Linked DNA regions of Homo sapiens. The protein of the gene in region 7 purifies or fractionates together with the protein of the main gene of each other region. This does not show direct contact. Each region holds a gene or a part of one and is shown on either strand. Other genes may lie near its edges.

Region 1 (3,500 bases), 3.8 Mb from region 7:
ACTTGCACACAGGGGTACTTTCCAGTGGTATAGGAGGTAGTCCCCAATTTTCATTATGCCATAAATGTAATTCCATCTAGTAGAGACTTATGTTTCACTTTTTTTTTCCATTTCATTTGACAGTTTGCTGATATCCATTTGAGCAGCCAGTACACAGTGCTTGGGCAACCAAGATTTTATCTTTCTTCCATTTTAAGATAAAAACTTCAGAAACACATATACCTAAGAGTGGAGAGTAATGATAGCTCTCTAAAGGGAACGAACTTCCAGATAGAATCTCTCAATGCATTTAGTAATCATCAGTCTGACAAAAAGTGACTGGAAACCTTTTTATGAGCAGTACTTTGCCTCCCAGGTATGGGAAACATGGTGATTCCCTCATCCCACTTTATAGATGAGGTCACTGAGGGATAAAGCTGTTATAAGATAGTGCAAGCTTGCACACATGGAGTTTAAACCAGTTAATAAAACAGTACTTAAAAGCAATCCATCCGTGCATGATTGCTGTACGTCCAATCCTGCCCAAGGCACCAAATTCCCATGTCTTTGTTGGTAAAGGAAAGCCAACCTTGGATTAAACACTCAGGTGACATGGACATACCTAGATGCAGCAGCAAACGCAACAGCCCGGGCAGCAGTGGCTTCTTCTAACTTCTTCCTCTTTTTCTCTTCCATTAACTGTTTCTCTACAAAACTTCGGGCTTCCTGCTCAGCTTTTAGCTTTTTCTCCAACTGGCTGATATTCTGCTTGTCTTTTTGCTTCATTTGCACAGCATTATGTAACCTATATGGAAATGATTGTCATATAAAGTCTTAAAATTACAAATGCCCACTATAAACCCTTGAGAAACATCTCTTTATCACCTTAAGGCCAATTAAACAGGAGGTTTGAACAGCAAATCAAAAATGTCAATGCCCAGAATGCCTGAGGAAAACACACTGTTATTCTTTAATAATTCCTAAACACCAATAAACAAGCTGCCTTACAAAACAGAGATTAAGACCTAGCCTCTGCTCTGTTCAAGTAAGTGATCTACAAAAGGTCATCCAGAAAACAGGGTAAAACAAATTTTGAACAGAGGGGAAGATAATTGTAGAACTAATTCTAATGTTCCAGAGCACCCTGAAAGAACTTCAGTCCCACCAAAGAACCACTGATGGGACCAGCCCCAGTGAAACTAAGGTAAGGGGTGGAAAGGGGAAGGTTTTTATTTTTCCTGAATACAATTTTGCTGTAGCCTACTACAGCTTTTCCTTTCCAGCTCAGGATGTTTGCTCACAGTGTCCCCAAATCCTCTTTTAGAGTCACAGGATGCTTAATTTCAGATAGAAATTTCAGCCATATTTCCTGCTTACTACCACCCCCAGCTTTACCTATCAGCATGAGGTGAGTTTATCACTGGGATGTTCTCTACATATCAATGCTAGAACCACCACAAATGCTGGTCAGAGGCAATGGAGAGGTTATTTGCCTGTAATGCCCTAGCTTTTGAGTTACATTCCTTAAAAATGTTGAACTCCTCTTTCAACAGGGAAAGCCCAGAAAGCCAACAGCCTGTAATGATCATCACTACCACGGGCACACATTGCTGGGAGATTTAAAAAAAGAAAAAAGGACAGACCTACACTGAGTTAAGAAGTAATTCCAGAATGAACTAATCAAAAGCCTAAATGAATTCACACAGAAGACCTGGCTTTCTGCCTGCCTTTTCAAATAAAATCAAAGTTCAATGTCATCTTTTAGTTCTGGAAATAAAAGTAAATATAGTCAAATCCTCTAGAAATTTTCACTCAAAGGAGCAAAATTTTCAAAATGTGACAGAACTACTTCTTGTCAATTTTACTATCCAAAAACTCAATAACTATTTTAAACTAAGAAGTTATTAAATGAGAGAAGACAAAAACAGTAATATTAATAAACTGTTTTGTGGCAATGAAATAAGTTTTTATAGATTTTATAAACATGTTGAATATCTGGTACTAAATAAAGTATTTTAAACATTTTATTTAAAAACCTCTCAGCAGGTCTCTGTCACCATAAATCTTGTGCTCCAACCCCTGGCAACAGGAGAAGCAGTGAAGCTGCCGGGCTTACGGCCAAAGGCCTGAAAGGTGCACGTACTTGTTCTGCAGCAGCTCGTTCTCCTGCCGAAGCTGGCCCATTTCTGAGCGGATCCCTCGCTCGGTGCTCGAAAGGGAGCTGATCTGACTGCGGAGCTCTTGTTCCACTTGTCTGCTGGCTTGCAGGTCAGCCTTTAACTTTTTAATGTCTTGTTCCAGCCTAGGAGAATGAGAAATGCAGCATTTTCATCTAGGTGAGGGCACCCACAGAGCTGGGAGGGACCTGGTGGGGGTCCTGGACTGCTGGGTGAATGGCAGAAAAAGGACCCCGCTGGCAGTTCCTGCCATGATGAGGACTCCTGTCTGCAACTGGGTTAATTTTGTTGAATGATTCCACCTGGGTCCCTACCTCTTCCTACTGGGGTGTAACTTTCAACTTCCCCCTGTTTATGAATAGTGACAGGTGAGTATGGTGCTTGTGAATATCCATCCGAGCTGCTGATAAAGGAGAAAGGGACAGCAGAGAGGGTGGCTGAAGACTAAAGGCTCCCTTCTGGTGGCTTTTCATGCCCTCAGCAAGGGAAATATGTTCAAACAACTAGCACATGACCTACCACTTAATGCTTTGTGATATTTTGATAAATCAGAATCTACTGTCTGAGACTGCGTCCCACCATGGGCCTAGAAGAAAACGGTCTGCGACGACCTCCAGAAATTGCAGCATCCTTGCTGAATGACGTTCACAACTCTGGTGATTGCGGCAGAAGAGCTCACGAGACTCAATAACAATGAAAAAAGGAACAAATTACATGCTCTAAGAATCATAAGAGAACTCCATCTGTAAAATGAAGCCTATCTTTTCTCGTCAATTCCTTACTCTTGTTCCATCTATTTTCTTTACTGCAGTAATAGTTTCACTTTAAGTGACAGGTATTGGAGACCTACTATGCATATGTAGTGCTGAAAATGGTCAACAAAAACTATCGGCCAGGCGCAGTGGCTCATGCCTGTAATCCCAGCACTTTGGGAGCCCGAGGCAGGCGGATCACCTGAGGTCAGGAGTTCAAGACCGGCCTGGCCAACGTGGTGAAACCCCATCTCTACTAAAAGTACAAAAATTAGCTGGGCATGGTGGCGCGTGCCTGTAATCCCAGCTACTCAGGAGGCTGAGGCAGGAGAATCACTTGAACCCAGGAGGTGGAGGTTGCAGTGAGCTGAGATCATGCCACTGCACTCCAGCCTGGGTGACAAGAGTGAGACTCTGTCTCAAAAAACAAAAAACAAACAAACGAAAACTATAAAATCAAGTCTCTTTCTTCATGGGAAAACTTCACAATTAGGAACAAAGAAATAGGAACCAAGAAATACATAATTTAAATGATTAAACAATAAGACAAGGAAGGCCATGATTAAATATATGCCAGAAGGAATAATAACAA
Region 2 (3,500 bases), on a different chromosome or scaffold from region 7:
ATATGATACAGTGCCAGGCATGAAGCACTCAATAAATGGTAGCTATTATTATTTTTCCATACTTTCTTCAAATATCTAAATTCTAACCAAGCTGGATTGTCTTCTTTTACTCCTTCCTCCCCTCCCACCTTCTTCTTTAATATTTGGATCCACTGCTTCTCAACTCTTTTAGGATCAAAAATCCATTTCTAAATGTGACTAAAAAAAAAAAAAGACTATGTACCCAGAAAAATGCATATTTGCATAGAGACCTTTCACATATGTTAGAGTTTCTACCCCCTGAAGCCCATTCAGATTAATAATGGGATGAGAATCCCTCCTTTAAGACAAGTTACACCTAAGCTAATGCTGAATCTTTTATACAAAAAGGACTGAAATAAGCTTCAGTTGCATCTCAGAAGAAATATAAACTCACTATCCTAGAGTTGAAAGAAATGAAAGGAATGAAGAAAGATGGGGAGGAGGCCACAGAAATTTGTTTCTACCTCACTTCTCCCCTTCTCCATATCAGAACCATTAATGCCACGGCAGGCCTTACCCTTAAAAAGAAAGCAGAACAGAGGTTATGGTGGCTACCTAGAAAAGGGTTAACACAGCAGGCCTGAGACTACTGTCCTTAAAAAGGCCTGCCTGTCTTTGGCTGGTATCTGAAAACTTAACTGGTAAACAGTTCCCTACACTGATATAAACCTTTCCTTATATAACAGTGGCTCACTACTGAAGTAATGTGGTTTAATTATAACATATGCTTTCCTTTTGGGAGTATGAAATAATTTTGGTACATGAGGGTGCCGAAATGACTAACCTCCGATGAAAACCTTAGGAGCTGAGTCTCTAACAAGCAGCTTGTTGCTGGAGGAATTAAATGTGCCCAGTAGAGTCTACTGGGAATGAACTAGTGGAAAAACGTGAGCCTGGTTTCCTTCAGACTTCATACCATGTACCATTTCCTTTTGTGATTTTGCTTTATCCTTTCATTGTAATAAATCTTAGTTGTAAGGTGTTTTTTTGTTGTTGTTGTTGTTTTTTTAAATAACAAATCCCTATCACAGCTGGAGCTTTTACAAAGAATCTATTCTCGCAACAAAGAATTTGACCTCACCCTGCTTGGACTGGCTACATTTTTCTCTGCCAGGTCTACTTTGGTCAAAACGAATATGGTTCTCCTTCCATGAGGGTCCATTTGACTGACCAAGTCTGTAACAATACTGCGTTCAGCATCCACAGATCCATCTGAAAAAAATAAAAAAATGACACTGTGGAATTTTAAGATGTAAAGTAGACTTTTAAAACTCAGTACAAATTATACCCCTGTGTCTACATTATAGCAAGAAAGATTTTAATACATTTACGTTATTTACTAAAAAGAAATCCTAGCCGATAAAAATTTCAATGATGCTTATGTAAAACTTATCAAAATAATTTCAACTTCAATTTAATTTACTAATAAAATGAATACGAAGAGAAGGCAAAAATGCATTTATCTTGTATGTTTACATAACACAAACTATTTAATGCAAAGCTTGGATTGCTAAAGAAGAAAACATATCAGTACATTAAAATCTTTTGATATGATTTACCTTGAATACACAGTATGATGGCATTAGGATTCTGCATGTAAGCTTTGCTGATACTGAAAATAGTTTCCTTTGTGTCAGGAGCCATGCCTGATGTCACAGTCTTAAAGAAAAAGGTTTTAAATGTCATTATAAATGCTTCACACAATAAGAATAAAATAAAATACATGTTTTGTATATACTTACATTAATCACACCTGGTAAGTCAACAAGCACCATCCTCTGTAGTCCAGGGCCTTTTACATTTAAGGATATGGTCTACTCAGGAAAAATAAAAATAAAACAATGCTAAAGTTTGGGGGGAATTTGTCAAGAATTTTTTTTGGTGAAATGTATTCTAAAAATTCTATATCTCATCCATTCAGATAAGACGCTCACAAAAATGGTATTCTTTCTCTGATCCTAAAAGTAATTATTCTGGAAAATTACCCACAAAATGATATATTATTTGGATTTTTTTTTAAAAGCTCTACATATCTAGATAGCAGCAATCTAAACATCAATACCTAGATTTTGATTTATTTGAAATCATAAACATTTAATTTCCATAAAACGTCACTGAAATGAATTGCAACCCTTACCTCAGGGCTAACGGTACAGCCTTCTTTCACATTTTTCCTCATTCGAAGTTCTATTTCATGTCTTAATGCTGCAAGCTAATGGAAAACACAAAATCCTAAGAAAATCTAAGAAAATCTTAATTCACAAATATTCTTTAACTGTCTTTTATAAGCTCATCCAGGTTATAAAATTACACATATCAACCTTAGATGAATTTTACTTACATCTTCTTCTTTGGTAAGATCAAACTCCCGAGAACTATCTTTAAATAGGGCCACATGGTGAGGACCTTCACTCAGAGTCACCTGATAGTAACAGAAAACTGAGAGGTAATGATGTATTTATAAGTAATATTAATTCCCACAGCCCGTATGTGGTCTAGACAGGGCTACTGCATTGCACAAATCCAAGAGTCCCTTCACACTACTGCTGGGGCACCCCCTGAAGCTGTCAACATGGTAGTTCTGACAAGACAATAATTTTGTATTTGTATTGTTTGTATATATGTCATATATGTTGTGATTTCCCAACAAGAATGCTGGTTCCTTTATATCGCTTATGACCTAAAATGCTGCTGCCTCTTTCTTTCCCCAGTCAATGCTATACACAGCACTAAGCCCAAAATCATCTCTCTAAAACTTGAAACACTAAAAGGAAACCTTGCATTTAACCTCAAAGATGAATTTAGGTAAAGGACAATTCATTCATTCAACCTCTATAGAGAGTGAACTATGTGTCAGGTGTTGTAGGTGGGGAAACACAGAGCTGACTGTCCCAGTTTTAGACCTCATCACATGCTGGGAGAAATATACACAGACATAATAGAAGAGAGTGACAAAACCTAGGGTGCCACAGAAGAGAATGGAACTGATGATAAGGGAGCTACGACAGGCTTCACTCAAGGAGTGATATTTGGGTAAGAAATTTTGTTTTGTTTGTTTTTTTGTTTGTTTTGAGACCGAGTCTCATTCTGTCGCCCAGGCTGAAGTGCAGTGGCATGATCTCGGCTCACTGCAACCTCCACTTCGCGGTTTCAGGTGATTCTCCTGCCTCAGCCTCCCGAGTAGCTGGGATTACAGATGCCCGCCACCACACCTGGCAAGTTTTTTGTACTTTTAGTAGAGACAGGGTTTCGCCATGTTGGCCAGGCTGGTCTTGAACTCTTGACCTCAGGTGATCCGCCCTCCTCAGCCTCCCAAAGTGCTGGGATTACAGGCATGAGCCACTGCACCCAGCCAAGAAATGTTATAGCAATGTATATTAACAGTCAGTGGTTTCACAAGAACTTCTAAATGCCTAATTGACACCTTTCTAGCTTCTCTATAGTTATTTTACTTTAAAAATACAATTCCTTCTACTGAG
Region 3 (3,500 bases), on a different chromosome or scaffold from region 7:
GTTGCATTATTGGAACATTGACTTGAGAAAGAACCTCCCTGCGGAGGCCACTTTGGAGCAGGAAGTGGGCCTTGGGGCCACTTTCCCTTTGTTCAGCCTCCAACTAGTCCTCCCCAAGATTACTGTTTCTGCTGGAAACCTTTCATTTCTGCCCCTCCTCAAGGAGTCAGAACTTTTTCGCTAGAATCCCTGGCAACGGGAGGTGAAACAGACTTCCTTACTTGATGTAGTTTTCACAAAGTCTGTGGAAATTCTCCCTCTCCGCATCACACTTGAGGTCATCAAAGAGCTTGCTGAGGAGAATAGAGGCGCTCATGCGGCTGTTTGCGGTCACTGCGAGCTCCCCAGGAGGGTCCTGTAGAGAGCCCCCCACTTCCAAAATCTTTTTCAGACCTGTAAAGACACCCCGCTTAGACAGTAGAACACTAGTTCCAACCCCTACAAGTAAAAGAAACAGGCTTCCTAGGAGATGTGGAGAAAAGCAAGACAAGAAGGCTACAGAGTTCTGACAACTGTGTCCAGGGCAGCCCGGAGAATCTGCTTAGCTGATCTGCTACCTAAGGGAGGCGGCTGTAGGATCGGGAAGGACCTCAGAAGTGAGGCCTGCATGCCAGCCCTGCCCCTGGGGCCAAACGCTCTGGAGCTTTTGAGGTTCCTCATCTGTAAAACTAAGGGGAAAAGAATATCCACACCTCATAGGACCATTGTGAACACGATACCCACACCTCGTAGGACCACTGTGAACACAATAGACACACCTCGTGGGACCACTGTGAACACGATACCCACACCTCGTGGGACCACTGTGAACACGATATCCACACCTCATAGGACCATTGTGAAAGGCCCTGCTCATGCAAGGCCTTTGCAAAGCTTTTCTTATTTATCTTTTTTTTTTTTAAGACAGAGTCGCCCTGTTGCCCAGGCTGGAGAGCAATGGCGCGATCTCGGCTCACTGCAGCCTCCGCCTCCTGAGTTCAAGTGATTCTCCTGCCTCAGCCTCCAGAATAGCTGGGATTACAGGTGCATGCCAGCATGCCTGGCTAATTTTTTGTATCTTTTAGTAGAGACGGGGTTTCACCATGTCGGCCAGGCTGGTCTCAAACTCCTGATCTTGTGGTCTGCCCACCTCGGCCTCCCAAAGTGCTGGGATTATAGGCGTGAGGCACCACGCCCAGCTCTTATTTATCTTTTAGGGGAAAAGAGAGATGAATTGATATATCTACCGTTATTTTTTCCTCTGAGTATAGAAGTAATACATGCTCACTCAAACAAAAAAAAAAAAAAAAAAAAAAAAACAGGGCACAATGGCTCATGACGGTAATCCCAACACTTTGGGAGACCAAGGTGGGTGCATTGTTTGAGGTCAGGAGTTCGAGACCAGCCTGGCCAACATGGTGAGATTCTATCTCTACTACAACTACAAGAATTAGCCGGGCATACTGATGCGTGCCTATAATCCCAGCTACTCGGGAGGCTAAAGCAGGAGATTTGCTTGAACCCGGGAAACGGAGGCTGCAGTGAGCTGAGATCGCGCCACTGCACTCCAGCCTGGGCGACAGAGTGAGACTCTGTCTCAAAAAAAAAAAAATACAGAAAGCTAATCCAGCCTCTCTGCTAACCTGCTTGCAGGCCCGCTCAATGTGCATGTATGTGCACACGCATATGATAGAAGAGTCTAACTTTGAGCCCCCTAAGGGTAGCTCTTGTGTCTAGAAGGTGTTGTAAGAGCTGAATCCCATTGCTCTGGAAGATCTTCTCAGCTCCAGCATCCTCCTGGGCCACAGGACGCACTTCAGTGCAGACACGTGGCTGGAGATAATCACAACTTTTCTTTCTTTTTTTTTTTTTTTTTTTTGAGACAGTCTCCCTCTGTTGCCCAGTCTGTAGTGCAGTGGTACAATCACAGCTCACTGAAGACTTGACTTCCCAGGGTTAAGTAATTCTCCCACCTCAGCCTCTGGAGTAGCTAGGACTGCCGATGCACACCACCATGCCCAGCTAATTTTTTTTAATTTTTCATAGAGACAGGGTCTCGCTATGTTGCCCAGGCTGATCTCAAACTCCCGGCTTCAAGTGACCCCCTGCCTCTCAAAGTGTGTCATCCACCATGCCTGGCCCCACTCACAACTTTTCTTATTACTCCTAAGAATAAACAAACTTCAGCTGCTGAAGCAAGTTTTTGTGAACTATATCACCTACCTTGGTCGATGACCCAGAGGGTGAGGCTGTTGTTGGGGTCCTTGAGAGACTTCCGGGGCACCGCTTTAATCAGGAGGGTCAGGGCATTGTCTCGGCCTTGGCCAGAGACCCCCACCTCTGTCAGCAGATCTAAGAGGTTACTGATGAGGACCTTCAGCTCCCGGGCAGGATCTGGCAACAACAAGAAGACATCAGTGGGCTCCACAGCAGCCCAGCCCAGTTTGACCCTTCAACTTCTCCAACAAACCAGGGAGACACAGGGAAGGGGGGATCCGCATCCCAGGCTCCAGACTGAGCTCCAGCTTTGTCCTGAGGCACCTTGGTTGCTGAGAATCTAGAGTAAAATAATGTCACCAAACCGTATTCCAAACAACCTGCAGCTGCAAGTCTGGTCCCCAAAAAACTGGCCTGGCTGGCTCAGCCCCATCCCTTCCATGACAGTAACGTCCAAAAGACCCCAGACCTGCTTCCACTCACCCACAATGATGGCACCTTCTTTGCCTCGGAAGCCTTTTTTGACACCTTCCTTGAGGGCATCAAACATAACCTGCAGCAGGTGGCAGGCAGCCAGGGACACAGCCTGGCTTTCCACGCCCAGGATGGAGACTACTCGCCGAGTTCCCAGTATGCTCAGGGTTGCCACTGTCTGGGGTGGGAGAGGTAAACAGAAGGAAGCTTCCAGTTGTTGAAGGGCAGCCACAGAGATCCCTAACTGTGAGTTAGAGGATACGGCCAGAAGGAGAGAATTGGGTGGAAGGCCCAGCTCCAGGTGAAAACAACACAGAATGGATGGCATGACCCAGGGTAATGGCAGGATAATTTTGTTAGAAAGATTTCCTAAAGGAGACATTACACGGCAATGCCCTACTACCTCTCCTTGGTGCCAGAGAAGACATAGTATACTGCAGCCCTGGGAGCAGCTGCCTTAGCTCATGCCTCCCCAAGAAAAAGACCTATACCTAGACGAAGCTACCTGACCACCAGGCTTAATGGTCTAGTTCTTCCCCAGTCTAAACCCTGAGGTTCTTTCCACACCCTGGGGATGTGGACGTCACGTACACGGAATGGGCCCGTGAGACCTCTCCACCCAGTTTCTTTCTTTTTTCTTTTTTTTTTTTTTTTTTGAGACGGAGTCTTGCTCTGTCGCCCAGGCTGGAGTGCAGTAGCGCGATCTGGGCTCACTGCAAGCTCCACCTCCCAGGTTCACGCCATTTCCCTGCCTCAGCCTCCTGAGTAACTGGGATTACAGGCGCCCGCCACCGCACCCGGCTAATTTTTTGTATTTTTAGTAGAGACGG
Region 4 (3,500 bases), on a different chromosome or scaffold from region 7:
CTGCGACTACAGGCACATGCCACCATGCCTGGCTAATTTTGTTGTACTTTTCGTAGGGACAGGGTTTCGCCATGTTGCCCAGGCTGGTCTTGAACTCCTGAGCTCAAGCGATCGGCCTCCCTTGGCCACCCAAAGTGCTGCGATTACAGGCATGAACCTCCACACGTGGCCAAGTATTTTTTGCATAAAGTTTAAAACGGATAAAAAATGTATCTGCAACCATAAAGTCTAAGGGTTTTAGCTACCTTCTTTCATTACTTCTGTAGAACATCCAGATGATTTTACTTACTCTTGATAAACTTGGTTGTTTTGGAATTCTGAAGTCTCTGGAATAGCAGAATGAAGATTTGTTTCCTATATTGGTCAACTGATTCACTAAAGAATTAAAAAAAATCAACAATATAAATTTAGGACTTTTCTGAGCACCTAACAAAATTTCTAAATAAATGCACAAAGTTCTAGTCATACTCACGGAGGCATGTGCTCTATTATACTGTTTAGAAGATAAAAACCTTGGTGGTCATTTGCTTTGGATGCAATCAGCTTCTGAAAGACACCTAGTAACCCAGGCTGTTAAGAAATGAGATCCAACAGAAAATGGTTAACAGGAATAATTATTCGAAAAGTTAAACATGATATATGTCTTAAAACAGAGTTCATACTGTAATAATCTATCCTTTTCTCTTTAATTATTTCTGAAACATATGGGGAACAATTCCTCCCGCGTAGCCATTAAAGTAATTTTTTTTTTCTTTGAGACGGAGTTTCACTCTTGTTGCCCAGGCTAGAGTGCAATGGGGCGATCTTGGCTCACTGCAACCTCTGCTTCCCAGGTTCAAGCGATTCTCCTGCCTCAGCCTTCTGAGTAGCTGGGATTACAGGCACGTGCCACCACACCCACCTAATTTTTATTTTTAGTAGAGACGGGGTTTCGCCATGTTGGCCAGGCTGGTCTTGAACTCCTGACCTCAGGTGATCTGCCCACCTCGGCCTCCCAAAGTGCTGAGATTACAGGTGTGAGCCACCACGCCCGACCAAAGTTAAGTTCTTAAAATCAACCTGTTTGGCTCTGTTTTTAAAATTTTCCATCATGGATATAAATAACTAAAGGATACAGAATTCTGATAAAACATACCATAACATTTTCTACTAATTATTTCCGTTATTATTATTATTATTTTTTTTAAGAGACAGGGTCTAGCTCTGTTGCCCAGGATGGAGTGCAATGGTGAGATCATGGCTCACTGCAGCCTTAAACTCCTGGGCTCAAGCGACCCTCTCACCTTAGCCTCCCAAGTAGATGGGACCACAGGCATGCTCCACTGTGTCCAACTAATTAAAAAGCTTTTTTTTCCTTTGTAGAGATAGATCTCACCACGTTGCCTAGGCTGGTCTTAAACTCCTCGGCTCAAGGGATCCTCCCACTAGAGGCTCCCAAAGTGGTGGGCTTGAGCCACTGCCCCCAGCCTTAAATTTATTTTAAATAAAAAAATTTCAAACATCTGCCATCCCCAGTTTCTCCAAGCTACTTTATAAAATTACAGTTATATCAAAACCTGACGCACAATTTTGTCAGCTGCAGCACTTGCTATTGTGTTTGAACCGCGTTCTAAGAATGCTTGAAGAAGCCTCACTAGAGCAGGAATATTTCCTGTTCTTTCCCAAAGCACTGGCTGAAGGAGATGAGGAAATAAGGCCATATAGGAAGACGGGATGTCATTTTTGTGTGTTTCCAGAAGCAAAGACATCACTTGAAAGACGTATGGAATAAATTCTGTTGATAAAAGTAAAAACAGAGCTGTGAGCTTCAGAAGGAATGACTGACACAAAAGGCCCACATCGCTTAGGTGGGCTGCATTTTATAGCCATGTTAATTTTATTCCATTACAAAGAAAATAATTTCCGTTAACTTACCTTGCACATCATTTTGTAAGATTTCAGTAAACACCAAAAACAAAGCCTCCTCAAAATTTACAACAGCAGCAGGGTTAGCTTTGCAAGTTATTCTTATGGATAAACATATTGCTTCAAACATGTAGTGATTAAAGTGAGGTTTGCTTGGGTTCTGAAATTAAAAAAAAAAAACCTAATTATGCTAATAATCCACACCTAACCTTTATAAAACACATTTAAAATAGAGGCCATCTTATTTTTTAAAAATCAAAATTAAGAAAAAAACACCAATTATACCCTAGTGCTTGTTCATTTGAATTTTTTTTTAAATGGCCCAAAGTCCACCATGAAAAAAATACTTCAGAGTTACAGAGTTGCTTATACAAACCTCAGATCCCAGAGCTGTAACTTGTCTTAAGCCCACGTGCCCTCGCAGAGAAGAAATACTAAGTCCTAGTAATGCCACTAGCCTTAACTTCTGTGGGCCTCAATGTCTATGTCTACTTACTGATAATCCCCCAAATGAGTAGTTTTTTATGTTCTTTTTAAGCAACAAAACCCCATTTTTCTTTAAACAAGTTCTTGGAAGGCTACTAGCATACAAATCTAACTCAATCAGAACATGAGATGGTAATACATATGGGAGGCGGAGACTTGGGTTCCCTCCCCGCTCCATCCCTCAAGGCCCTAAGTAGTCCAAAGACCCTTAGCCCTAACTCAGTTGAATAATAATCACTCTGTTCTCCAAAATCCCTCCAACACTTCCTATGAATTGATCTAATTCTCATAAGATCAAGAATAGCATCTAAAAAGGAATTCTGTCAGCCTTAAACGGATTTATTTTCTAAAATTTAGTGTTAATAAACATGAATCTAAGTATCTGTAAAATTTTGATCAGAGTGAACTTTCCTTTTGAGAAATAAGAGTAAGGAAGAAAAGACAACACAAAGGATTTTAATCATCATTTCATAGAAGTCCAGACAGCCTCTTTTATATCCATTTAGTGCAAAGCCTACTTAACTCCATTTAAGGTAATTTTGGATCATCTGCACTTTCTTTTTCTACAATAAACATGTTACTTTTGTAATGAGAATGAAAATGTATTCAAGCTTCTAGCACACACTTAAAGGTGACTGCTATTACGTCTCCAATCTAACAGCATGCCCACACTTTCAGAAAAGTCCATTAGTGGCTGGTCAGGAAGAATTCACAGACCTTCTCTAAAGCTTCACGTAATGCCAAAGAGTTCTGAGGCCCAAACAGTTTGGAGCAAATAAAAAAGGAACCCCACTTTCAAAATTGGCTCTATTACCTTACTAACAGCTAATAGCTTCTGTGTAAGCTGAGTGATGAGAGTAGGGATGTAGGGGATTATGGCTTCTTGTAGGAGAGAAAAACTTCTCATGATAGCTGTAAAATACAAAAACAGCAAAAACAAATAGAGTTTAGTTAAACTTCAGAATAAGAGAGCGACTGGGGGGAAAAAAGCGCACTAATTCATCAACTAAATTTTAAGATGCTTAGACAACCCCGAGATAGCTCTCTACATTTAAAAATAATCTAAATTTCCCTTCCTTTTAAAATTAGGACGGGTTGGCAACAAAATT
Region 5 (3,500 bases), on a different chromosome or scaffold from region 7:
GAGACTCTTTTGCCTATGAAAAGAGGAGTGAAAAGTGGGAAGCACTTTGCCTTATGGTTTGGATGCCAGCTCAGCTGCAGGAGAATAGAGGACCAGATAGGGTTCTAAGGTTTCCAACTCCAGATGCTGGCTCCCAGATGGCATCTCTGGACCTGCCTGGGGCCCAGGGGAACTTGCTTGCTGTCCTGAAGGGATGGATAAAAGCCTGACTGGCTTTGCCACCTGCTCATTATAGAGCCCTAGAACTTTGAGCCAACACAGGAGGTAGCCAGGTAGGGGTTACACTGGGCCTTGGGTGAGATCCAGTGCTATGCTGGTTTCAGGTCTGGTCTAGTGTAGTTCCAGTGGTGGTAGCCACAAAAGTGCTTGTGTCACCACTCCCCCAACTACAAGAGGCTTGGAGCACAGAATCAGAGACTCGTTTGTTTGGGACAAAGTAAGGGAAGAGAACAAGAGTCTCTGCTTGGTAATCCAGAGAATTCTTCTAGACCTTATCTAAGACCACAAAGGTAGTACCTCTGCAAGTCTGTAAGAACCACAGCATTATCGGGCTTGGGGTGCCCCCTAATGTAGATATGGCTGCAATGACCAAAACTGGATCACAACAGCCAACTCCCTTCAAATATCTGGAAAGCCTTTCTAAGACAGGTACAAAAGAGTTCAGATTGTGAAGACTACGATAAATACCTTCAATGCCCAGACACCAATGAACACCCACAAGCATCAAGACCATCCAGGAAAACATGGCCTTGAAAAACAAACTAAATAAGGCACCAGGGACCAAATCCTGAAGAAACATAGATATGTGACCTTTCAGAGAGGGAATTCAAAAGAGCTATTTTGAGGAAATGCAAAGAAGTTCAAGATAACACAAAGAAGGAATTCAGAATCCTATCAGATAAAGTTAACAAAGAGGTTGAAACAATTAAAAGGAATCAAGCAGAAATTCTGGGGTTGAAAAATGCAGCTGACATACTGAGTCTCTTAATAGAAGTCATCAAGCAGAAGAAAGAATTGGTAAGCTTAAAGACAGGCTATTTGAAAATACACTGTCAACAGAGACAAAAGAAAAAAGAATGAAAAACAATGAAGCATGCCTATAAGATCTAAATAATAGTTTCAAAAGGGCAAATCTAACAGTTATTGGCCTTAAGAAGGAGGCAGAGAGAGATAGGAACAGAACGTTTATTCAAAGGGATGAAACAGAGAACATCCGAATTCTAGACAAAGATATCAATATTCAAGTACAAGAAAGTTATACATCAACCAGATTTAACCCAAAGAAGACTACCATTCAAGGCATTTAATAACCAAACTTCCAAAGGTCAAGGATAAAGAAAGGATCCTAAAAGCAGCAAAAGAAAAAATAAATAACATACCATGGAGCTCCAATATGTCTGACAGCAGACTTTTCAGTGGAAACATTACAGGCCAAAAGAGAGTGGTATGACATAAACTACTGAGGGAAAAAAAACTTTTACCCTAGAATAGTATATCCAGTGAAAACATCCTTCAAGCTTAAAGAAGAAATAAAGACTTTCCCAGACAAACAAAAGCTGAGAGATTTCATCAACATCAGACCTGTTCTACAAGAAATGCTAAGGGGAATCCTTCAATTTGAAGGAAAAAAGGTGTTAATGGGCAATTAAAAAATGATCTGAAGGTACCTCACTGGTCATACTAAGCATACAAAAAACCACATAATTTTATAACACTGTAATTGTGGTATGTAACCTATTGATATCTTAAGTAAAAGACTAAAAGATGAACCGATCAAAAATAACTACAACTTTTCAAGACATACTTGGTACCATAAGATATAAATAGAAATAACAGAAAGTTAAAAAGTTGGGGGGACAAAGTACAGAGTATTTATTAGACTTCTTTTTGATTGCATGTTTGTTTATGCAATCGGTGCCAAATTGTCATCAGTTTAAAATAACGAGCTATAAGTTATTTGCAAGCCTCATGATAATCTCAAATCAAAAAACATACAATGAATACACAAAAAATAAAAAGCAAGAAATTAAAACAAACCACCAGAGAAAATCACCTTCACTAAAAGGAAAATAGAAAGGAAGGAAAGAAGGAAGAGAAGACCACAAAATAACCAGAAAACAAATAACAAAATGGCAGGAGTAAGATCTTACTTATTATTAATAACACTAAATGTAAACAAACTGAATTCTCCAATCAAAAGACATAGAGTGGCTGAATAGCTAAGAAACACAAAATTCAATGATCTGTTACCTACAAGAAACATACTTCACCTATAAAGACACACAGACTAAAAATAAAGGGATGGAAAAAGATATTTCATGCCAATGAAAACCAAAAAAGAGCAGGAGTAGCTATACCTGTAATAGACAAAATAGATTTCAAGAAAAAAAAACTATAAAAAGGGACAAAGAAGGAGGTGAGGAGCGCCTCTGCCTGGCCGCCCCGTCTGGGAACTGAGGAGTGCCTCTGCCAGGCCGCCCCGTCTGAGAGGTGAGGAGCGCCTCTGCCTGGCAGCTGCCCCGTCTGGGAAGTGAGGAGCATCTCTGCCCAGCCGCCCCGTCTGGGAAATGGGGAGCGCCTCTGCCCGGCTGCCCCGTCTGGGAAGTGGGGAGCGCCTCTGCCCGGCCGCCCCGTCTGGGAGGTGAGGAGCGTCTCTGCCCGGCCGCCCATCGTCTGGGATGTGAGGAGCGCCTCTGCCCGGCCGCCCTTCGTCTGGGAGGTGAGGAGCGCCTCTGCCCGGCCGCCCCGTCTAGGAAGTGAGGAGCGCCTCTGCCCAGCTGCCCTGTCTGGGATGTGAGGAGCCACCTCTGCCCAGCTGCCCCATCTGGGAGGTGAGGAGAGTCTCTGCCTGGCCGCCCCGTCTGGGAAGTGAGGAGCGTCTCTGCCCGGCTGCCCTGTCTGGGAGGTGAGGAGTGCCTCTGCCCGGCCGCCCATCGTCTGGGAAGTGAGGAGCGCCTCTGCCCGGCCGCCCCGTCTGGGAGGTGAGGAGCGCCTCTGCCCGGCCGCCCCGTCTGGGAGGTGAGGAGCGCCTCTGCCCGGCCGCCCCGTCTGGGAGGTGAGAAGCGCCTCTGCCCGGCCGCCCCATCTGGGAAATGAGGAGCGCCTCTGCCCGGCTGCCCGTCGTCTGGGAAGTGGGGAACGCCTCTGCCCGGCCGCCCCATCTGGGAAGTGGGGAGCACCTCTGCCCGGCCACCCCGTCTGGGAAGTGTGGAGCGCCTCTGCCCGGCCACCCCGTCTGGGAAGTGTGGAGCACCTCTGCCCGGCCGCCCCGTCTGGGAAGTGGGGAGTGCCTCTGCCCGGCCGCCCCATCTGGGAAGTGGGGAGCGCCTCTGCCCGGCCGCCCCGTCTGGGAGGTGAGGAGCGCCTCTGCCCGGCCGCCCCGTCTGGGAAGTGAGGAGCGCCTCTGCCCGGCCGCCCCGTCTGGGAAGTGAGGAGTGCCTCTGCCTGGCTGCCCCATCTGGGAGGTGTACCCAACAGCTCCAAAGAGACAGCGACCATCG
Region 6 (3,500 bases), about 17 Mb from region 7:
GGAAGGTGGGAGGGCCGGGAAAGTGGGGAAAGAGGGCCCACCTGTAAGGACCTGGTATGCAGGGCAGGGGGTCCAGCACCTGCTGTGCGCATCCCCCAACTCCTCCCAGGCTGAATGCTCACTTGTCCCCCGCCCCCAAGAGAGACATGGCTCTGCGCCAGGATATCCAAGTGGCCCCTGGGGACCTGGGGATGAGGCCAGTGACCTCTCAGCACAATGGCCAGAAAGAAGCAGCCCATTTCTCCTCCCTGGGCTCGGGCCCTGCCTGGAATTCTTCCTATCACCCCTCTGAGGATCCACCCCTCCCCGTGGGGGCTGCTCACCCAAGGCTCCATCCAGGTTCTGGAAGATACGGCAGCGGTGGTCCAGGGTGATATTGATCTGCTCCTGCAGGAAAGAAGGTACCAGACTGCAGCAGGGACAGGCCCTGGGGGAGGCTGGGGCTACATCTCACCCAGTGTGGGGAATCTGTCCCCAAGTTCAGCCCTCATTCCCCACACCGACTCTGCCACGTCACATCAGGGCAGCTAGGTGCCCAGAGAAGGCCAGCAGCCAAGCTCCTGGGGTCTACAGTCTAGTGGCTCTACTCACAGAAAACCAGGGACTCTGAACTGGAAGGAATCTAAGAATGCAGCCGGCTCACCTACAACAATGACGGCCGTTAAGAGTAACCAGCACCTGCCAAGCACTCCACTACACGCACATAGCTACTCCAAATATTCTTTTTTTTGAGAAAGAGTTTCGCTCTTGTCACCCAGGCTGGAGTGCAATGGCACGACCTCGACTCACTGCAACCTCCGCCTCCTGGGTTCAAGCGATTCTCCTGCCTCAGACTCCTGAGTAGCTGGGACTACGGGCATGTGCCACCATACCCAGCTAATTTTTTTTTTTTTTTTTTTTTTTTTTGCTAGAGATGGGATTTCACCACATTGAGCAGGCTGGTCTCGAACTCCTGACCTCAGGTGATCCGCCCCCGCCCCCCGCCTCCCAAAGTGCTGGGATGACAGGTGTGAGCCACCGCACCTGGCCGCTACTCCAAATATTCTACACGAGTCGGGTGCGGTGGCTCACTCCTGTCATTCCAGCACTTTGGGAGGCTGAGGCAGAAGGATCACTTGAGCCCAGGAGTTTGAGACCAGCTTGGGCAACATAGCAAAACTTCATCTCTATAAAAAAATCTTAAAATTAGCCAGACATGGTGACGCAGGCCTATAGTCCCAGCTACTCAGGAGGCTGAGGTGGGAGGATCGCTTGAGTCCGGGAGGCTGAGGCTGCAGTGAGCTATGTTTCTGCCACTGCGCATCAGCCTGGGTGACAGTGAGACCCTGTCTCAAATAAATAAATAAACTATTCTACATATATTAATCAATTTAATCCTGACAACATCTCTGTGAGAAAGTATTATCATTATTGCTTTTTTTTTTGAGATGGAGTCTGGCTCTTGTCACCCAGGCTGCAGTGCAATGGCACAATCTCGGCTCACTGCAACCTCCGCCTCCCAGGTCCAAGCAATTCTCCTGCCTCAGCCTCCTGAGTAGCTGGGATTACAGGCACCCACCACCACGCACGGCTAATCTTTATATTTTTAGTAGAGACAGGGTTTCATCATGTTGGCCAGGCTGGTCTCAAACTCCTGACCTCAGGTGATCCACCCGCTTTGGCCTCCAAAGTGCTGGGATTACAGGCATGAGCCACTGGGTCTGGCCCATTATTGCATTTCATAACGGAAAAAACAAGGGACAGAGAAGTTGCCCAATGTCACACAGCTAGTAAATGGTGAGCTGGGATTGGAACCCAGGCAGCCTGGCCCTGAAGTCCTTATTCTGAACCAATGAACAATGCTGCCTCTTTAAGACCCGACAGCCGGGCACGGTGGCTCACGACTGTAATCCCAGCACTTTGAGAGGCCGAGGCGGGTAAATCACCTGAGGACAGGAGTTCGAGACCAGCCTGGCGAACGTAGTGAAACCCTGTCTCTACTAAAAATACAAAAATCAGCCAAACGTGGTGGTGCACGCCTGTAGTCCCCGCTACTCGAGACGCTGAGGCTCGAGAATCGCTTGAACCAGGGAGGTAGAGGCTGTAGTGAGCCGAGATCGCACCACTGTACTCTAGCCTGGGCAATACAGTGAGACTCCATCCCAAAAATAAAAAAATAGGATTAGTGTCCTTATCAATGAGGCCCCAGTGAGCTCCCTACCCCCTTCCACCATCTGAGGACACAGAGAGAAGTCAGCTGTGTCTGTACCAGTTAGAGGGCTCTGACCAGAACCCAACTGTGATCTCACCCTTCCGGCCTCCAGAACCATGAGAAATCCACATCCGTTGTTTGGGAGCCACCCAGCCTATGGCAGTTTGTCAGAGCAGCCTGCATAGACTAAGACACCAACCCAGGGGTTCAGGCCTGAGAGGAGCTGTTCCCGTGCAGCCTGGCCGGTGGATCCCCAGCCCCCTCTCCTTGGCCCGCCCACTGCCTCTTACCCTCTTCTCCGGGTCCAAGAAGATCTTGGTGTAAAACAGCTGATCGCTGTCGCTGTCCTGGCCCTCCCACTCGGCCACCAGTTTGCTGAGGTTGGGGGCATAACCGATGAAGCCTGAAGGTTGGTGGGTGGGGACACCAAGACGGACCCTTAGCTTCCAGCCTCTAAGTCAGGGGCCTCCTCCCACCCTTCCCTCTTATCCACCTCCACTCATATGCCCACAAACCCTGTCACCTCTCAGAAGTCCTCCTGAATTGACAGGAGGTGGGGCTGCAGGTTGGAAATGGGGCTGCCAGTGAATGTCACTTATTAATGAGTTCCTAATGACCCCAAGAATAAGACCAATGGTGCCCACTAAGCTGTACTGTTCAGTGCTGGGCACCATATAGGTGGTGAAGAAACGGATTGTACGAGGAGCCCCTGGAGAGCAGGGCTGGGAGGATACAGGCCTGGTGTCCCTTTTTACAGTTATCTGGGAAACCTGGCCCAGAGAAGGGAAAGGCTGGGCCAAGCTCACAGAGTGCCTTGGGGGCTGAGACCTGGCATAGTGGGGAAGCCCACATGGGCCCCTGGCTAGAGTACAGACTGGTGACAAGCAACCACAAGAGCAATGGGACATCCCTACTCCTGGGCCTGGGCCAGGGCAAGGCCATCTGGACTGTGCTTACTCTGGACCAGTGGAAAAAAGTGTCTGTTGAGGGCAGATGGCAGATCCCCATCTAAGGTTGAAAAGAGGCCTGTGGATTTTATTCTCCGTGCAGTGGAAAGTCATTAAGTGATGTGTGTGAATTTGCATCTTTATTTATTTATTTATTTTTAAGACAATGTCTCGCTCTGTCGCCCAGGCTGGAGTGCAGTGGCACGATCTCGGCTCACTGCAAGCTCCGCCTCCCGGGTTCATGCCATTCTCCTGCCTCAGCCTCCCGAGTAGCTGGGACTACAGGCGCCTGCCACCACACCTGGCTAATTTTTTGTATTTTTAGTGGAGACGGGGTTTCATCGTGTTAGCCAGGATGGTCT
Region 7 (3,500 bases):
ACATGCCCAGGGTCATGCAGCCATCTTGCCGCTCCCCTCCCACCAAGCCTGCCCCCACCTAGCCTTGCAATCATCATCCTGAGGGACCCTGACCAGTGCTGCTCACAGGATCCCTCAAGAGGACAAGAAAGAAAGGGTTCCCAACCCATCCCAGACTCAGTGGCATAAGGGCCCTGAGGCTCTAGCAACAGGCAAAAGGCCCTGCAGACCCCGTGACTTTTTCCTGGGTCTTCCCTGAGGGTCTGGGAATCAGCCCAGGGCAGGATTTGCAGTGGCAAATACAGGGAAGACAAAGCAGAAGAGGAGAGGATACAGTGGGGAGTGAGGAGGTGAGGGACTGCCATGGTCACCCAGGCAGCCCACTCTCTTCCTAGGGAACTGACTAGGACCCTCACACCCCCCCCACCTAAAGGCTGTCACCCTCTCCCAGAGCATGTACCTTCGTGGAAGGAAGGGGTGGACCAGAAGGGCAGGGAGGCTCTATAACTTCTAGAAAAGGTACAGGCACAGCAGATAGACCTGGCTTCCAAATCCCAGCTCCACCACTTACTAGCTGTGTGGCCTTGAGGGCAAGTGATTCAGGCTCTGAGTCAGTTTCCCGATATGTAAAATGAAGGTAATAATACCCATGCCACAGGGCTGCCATGAGGATAAATGGCTTCATGCAGATAAAGCCCCTAGCACGGGGTCTGGCTAACAGTACGTGCACACAGTTGCACAAACACCCTCACACTCTCACACACATGCACACTTATGTCTCCCATATACGCCTCTCACACACACTCACACCACACATCCCATGTCTTTATCACAAAGACACACCCAGTTTCACATCCCACATACACACACACACACACACACACACACACACAGTCTTGTCTCCAGCACCCTCTCCCCAGCAGAGGCAGCCACCACGGCACCAGCAAGCCCAGCTTCCTCTGGGGAGAGGAGGTGGAGAAGCCAAGCTCCTAGCCATTCCAGAGAGATGGCCCTATCTGGCTGGCTGCCCCAGCCTTCTAGAAAGCCCATCTCTGTGCTTCCAGGAAAAGGCTGGGATGATATAAGGCCCCCAGAGTTTCACTTCTCCAAGGTGTCTGAGGAAAGGCCCCCTGGACAGGCCTGGACAGTCCCCTCTCCAGGCTGGACCTATCCAGGGTCCTCCTGACAGTCACCATCTGAGACCCATGGCCTCAGAGGGGAGGGACTGCAGGCTTCTTGCCTGCCAAGCATCACAGAACAATCTCCTCCAGACACTCCAAGCCCTGCGTGGGAGACTGAGGGAGGAAAAGGGTGAGCTGGCCTGGGATGGGGCTCTGGGTCAGAGGAGGGGCCTCTTTCCTAAGGCCCTGGACTCCCACCCCTCCGTCCCCGCTTTCCCACCTGATGGGCGCACCGCGGCCCTGTGCCGGCCTCAGCAGCACGGTGATGGTGTTCTCAGACTCGCCCAGGGGTGACGGCATGTCGGCATAATCAAAGCTGGGAGCTGGAGAAGGGGACAGGGTCACAAGCTGGAGCTTGGCCACTGGACCAGGAAGACCAGGCTTCCAGCCTCCTTGACCACAGTCCTCAGATCTCCCCTACTTCAGCCTTAGCCTCTTTGTTCCTGCTGACATGACCTGAGCTACCCTGGCCCCTGACCTCAGGCACCAGCCCCAACCTCAATCTTCTGATTCCACTGACCAGTCTCCTGACTCCTCTGACTTCATCCTCCCTGAGCCTGACTTTAACTCCTAAATGGCATATTTATCTCAGCAGGGGCCCTCTGTAACTACCCCCAGGATGCCCCCCATTTCCCTTCTGCCCATGGAACCCTGGGATTCTGGGCCACCTCCGAAGAGGCTGGGCCGGGTCAGGTGGGGCTCACCAGAGATGTTAGTGGTTATCTCAGTGAGTGCCGCCTGGCCGAAGCCTTTGCCTGTGCGGGCCCGCACGGAGAACAGGTAGGTGGTGCCTGGGTGCAGGTTGGAGAAGACATGGTAGGTCTCATTGCGGAGCTTGGAGATGGTACGTCGTGGGCCTGGCACGTTCACTGCCGGGTCTGATGACTCGATGCTCTGGTAGCTGATCTGGGGGCAGGATTGGCAGGCAGGTGGGCACTGGATGGTCAGAGCATCCCTGACCAGCAGCCTCCACCCACCATGTCCCAGGGAAGTGAGAGATAAGGCTAAGCAAAGGAGACTATGGATGCCATCAAGCCAGGCTTCTAGTCATCTTCGGCTCTCCCTCCTGCCTTCAGGACCCTCCTCTAGAATACACAGGGCACAGACCTGGCCATAGTTGAAGAAACTATGACAATCACATCTGTCCTCCCATGCACCTCCTACTGTAGCAGCAGAGAGAAAGAGGGCCACCTCTCACCTTCCACCAGGGTCCCCCACTGTAATAGGGTCCCAAACCCACCTCATACTGGGTGATGAGACCATTGGGCTCCTGGGGCTCCTCCCACTTGAGGAAGATCATGTCCTCCAGTGGAGTGAAGGTCAGGGACTCGGCTGCAATCCCACTGGGCACTGCAAGGGAAAGGCAGCAGGGGCCAGGGGAAAGTGGGCTTTGGTGCCAGACACCTGGGTTTAAATTCCAGCCTTGCCGCTTCCTACCTGGTTCTCATGGACTATTCAGCCTCTCTGCACCTTACTTAACTCAGCTGTGAAGTGGGAATGATATAACCCCTCTCAAGCCAGGACTCAAATGATGTGATGTACATAAAGCCCCAAGGCAAACATCAGCAATTGCATATGGTTCAACCTATTACTAAGTACTCAAAATGGATAGCTGGCATTTTCATTACTGTGTAGGTTGCATTCAGGAGAGAAATACGTTTGAAGGCTCCAATTTTGTTCCAGTTGGGTAGTTTTCAGAAAATATGCACATGGGCCAGAGAAATGAAAACAGCAATTGCATTGCGGTATTGGGATTATGGGTGGCGATATTTTCTCGTCTAAAAATTTCTAATTACATAAATGACATGTTCAATGTAGAAAATCAAAATGAGCTTAAAGAAAATTAATGGCATCTACAATTGTATCACCCAGAGATACTGTTAACATTTTAGCATTAACACTTGCAGGCATGGCTTTGTTTTGTTTTTCTTGTGTAAATGTATACTGTTAATGGCAGGCACAGGAGTGTCATTTAGGAAGAGAATGATCTTTGCTTGGGAAAATACCTTGATAAACCACTATGGGGAAGCTGAAGTCCTAAGGCAGAGAAAAGCAGAAAGTAAAGAAGGAGCTGAATTTTGAATCTAGGCCAATGCTGTGCAGAACAGAAAACTGTGCACGTGCGGCAGCAAGACAAAGCCATAAACCAAGGAGCTTAGTGGTAACTGGAATCTGTAGGAACCCAGGGAAAGGCTTTGGACCTGTGATAGCATTCGAGTGTAGCTCTTAAGAAGGACAACTGGCTGGGCACGGTGGCTCACGCATGTAATCCCAGCACCTTTGGGAGGCCGAGGCAGGCGGATCACTTGAGGTCAGGAGTTCGAGACCAGCCTGGCCAAC

The links.
Region 1: the proteins of PTPRU (region 7) and MACO1 purify together in Homo sapiens (affinity purification with mass spectrometry, with the first as the bait; one large-scale study listed by BioGRID). This does not show direct contact.
Region 2: the proteins of PTPRU (region 7) and OPA1 purify together in Homo sapiens (affinity purification with mass spectrometry, with the first as the bait; one large-scale study listed by BioGRID). This does not show direct contact.
Region 3: the proteins of PTPRU (region 7) and UNC45A purify together in Homo sapiens (affinity purification with mass spectrometry, with the first as the bait; one large-scale study listed by BioGRID). This does not show direct contact.
Region 4: the proteins of PTPRU (region 7) and CSE1L purify together in Homo sapiens (affinity purification with mass spectrometry, with the first as the bait; one large-scale study listed by BioGRID). This does not show direct contact.
Region 5: the proteins of PTPRU (region 7) and FUT8 purify together in Homo sapiens (affinity purification with mass spectrometry, with the first as the bait; one large-scale study listed by BioGRID). This does not show direct contact.
Region 6: the proteins of PTPRU (region 7) and PLOD1 purify together in Homo sapiens (affinity purification with mass spectrometry, with the first as the bait; one large-scale study listed by BioGRID). This does not show direct contact.

The regions. Positions count from the first base shown.
Region 1 is NC_000001.11:25,482,897-25,486,396, reverse strand, and holds part of MACO1 (macoilin), read right to left. Parts: intron 2,282-3,500; coding exon 2,123-2,281; intron 785-2,122; coding exon 602-784; intron 1-601. UniProt on the Homo sapiens protein: Plays a role in the regulation of neuronal activity.
Region 2 is NC_000003.12:193,641,708-193,645,207, reverse strand, and holds part of OPA1 (dynamin-like GTPase OPA1, mitochondrial), read right to left. Parts: intron 2,444-3,500; coding exon 2,363-2,443; intron 2,234-2,362; coding exon 2,159-2,233; intron 1,836-2,158; coding exon 1,764-1,835; intron 1,681-1,763; coding exon 1,581-1,680; intron 1,234-1,580; coding exon 1,103-1,233; intron 1-1,102. UniProt on the Homo sapiens protein: Dynamin-related GTPase that is essential for normal mitochondrial morphology by mediating fusion of the mitochondrial inner membranes, regulating cristae morphology and maintaining respiratory chain function.
Region 3 is NC_000015.10:90,941,785-90,945,284, reverse strand, and holds part of UNC45A (protein unc-45 homolog A), read right to left. Parts: intron 2,849-3,500; coding exon 2,680-2,848; intron 2,374-2,679; coding exon 2,203-2,373; intron 394-2,202; coding exon 222-393; intron 1-221.
Region 4 is NC_000020.11:49,087,812-49,091,311, reverse strand, and holds part of CSE1L (exportin-2), read right to left. Parts: intron 3,304-3,500; coding exon 3,206-3,303; intron 2,066-3,205; coding exon 1,915-2,065; intron 1,775-1,914; coding exon 1,566-1,774; intron 571-1,565; coding exon 473-570; intron 376-472; coding exon 290-375; intron 1-289. UniProt on the Homo sapiens protein: Export receptor for importin-alpha. Mediates importin-alpha re-export from the nucleus to the cytoplasm after import substrates (cargos) have been released into the nucleoplasm.
Region 5 is NC_000014.9:65,716,730-65,720,229, reverse strand, and holds part of FUT8 (alpha-(1,6)-fucosyltransferase), read right to left. Parts: intron 1-3,500. UniProt on the Homo sapiens protein: Catalyzes the addition of fucose in alpha 1-6 linkage to the first GlcNAc residue, next to the peptide chains in N-glycans.
Region 6 is NC_000001.11:11,951,717-11,955,216, reverse strand, and holds part of PLOD1 (procollagen-lysine,2-oxoglutarate 5-dioxygenase 1 isoform 2 precursor), read right to left. Parts: intron 2,595-3,500; coding exon 2,482-2,594; intron 388-2,481; coding exon 324-387; intron 1-323. UniProt on the Homo sapiens protein: Part of a complex composed of PLOD1, P3H3 and P3H4 that catalyzes hydroxylation of lysine residues in collagen alpha chains and is required for normal assembly and cross-linkling of collagen fibrils.
Region 7 is NC_000001.11:29,278,022-29,281,521, reverse strand, and holds part of PTPRU (receptor-type tyrosine-protein phosphatase U isoform 1 precursor), read right to left. Parts: intron 2,511-3,500; coding exon 2,401-2,510; intron 2,067-2,400; coding exon 1,865-2,066; intron 1,484-1,864; coding exon 1,381-1,483; intron 1-1,380.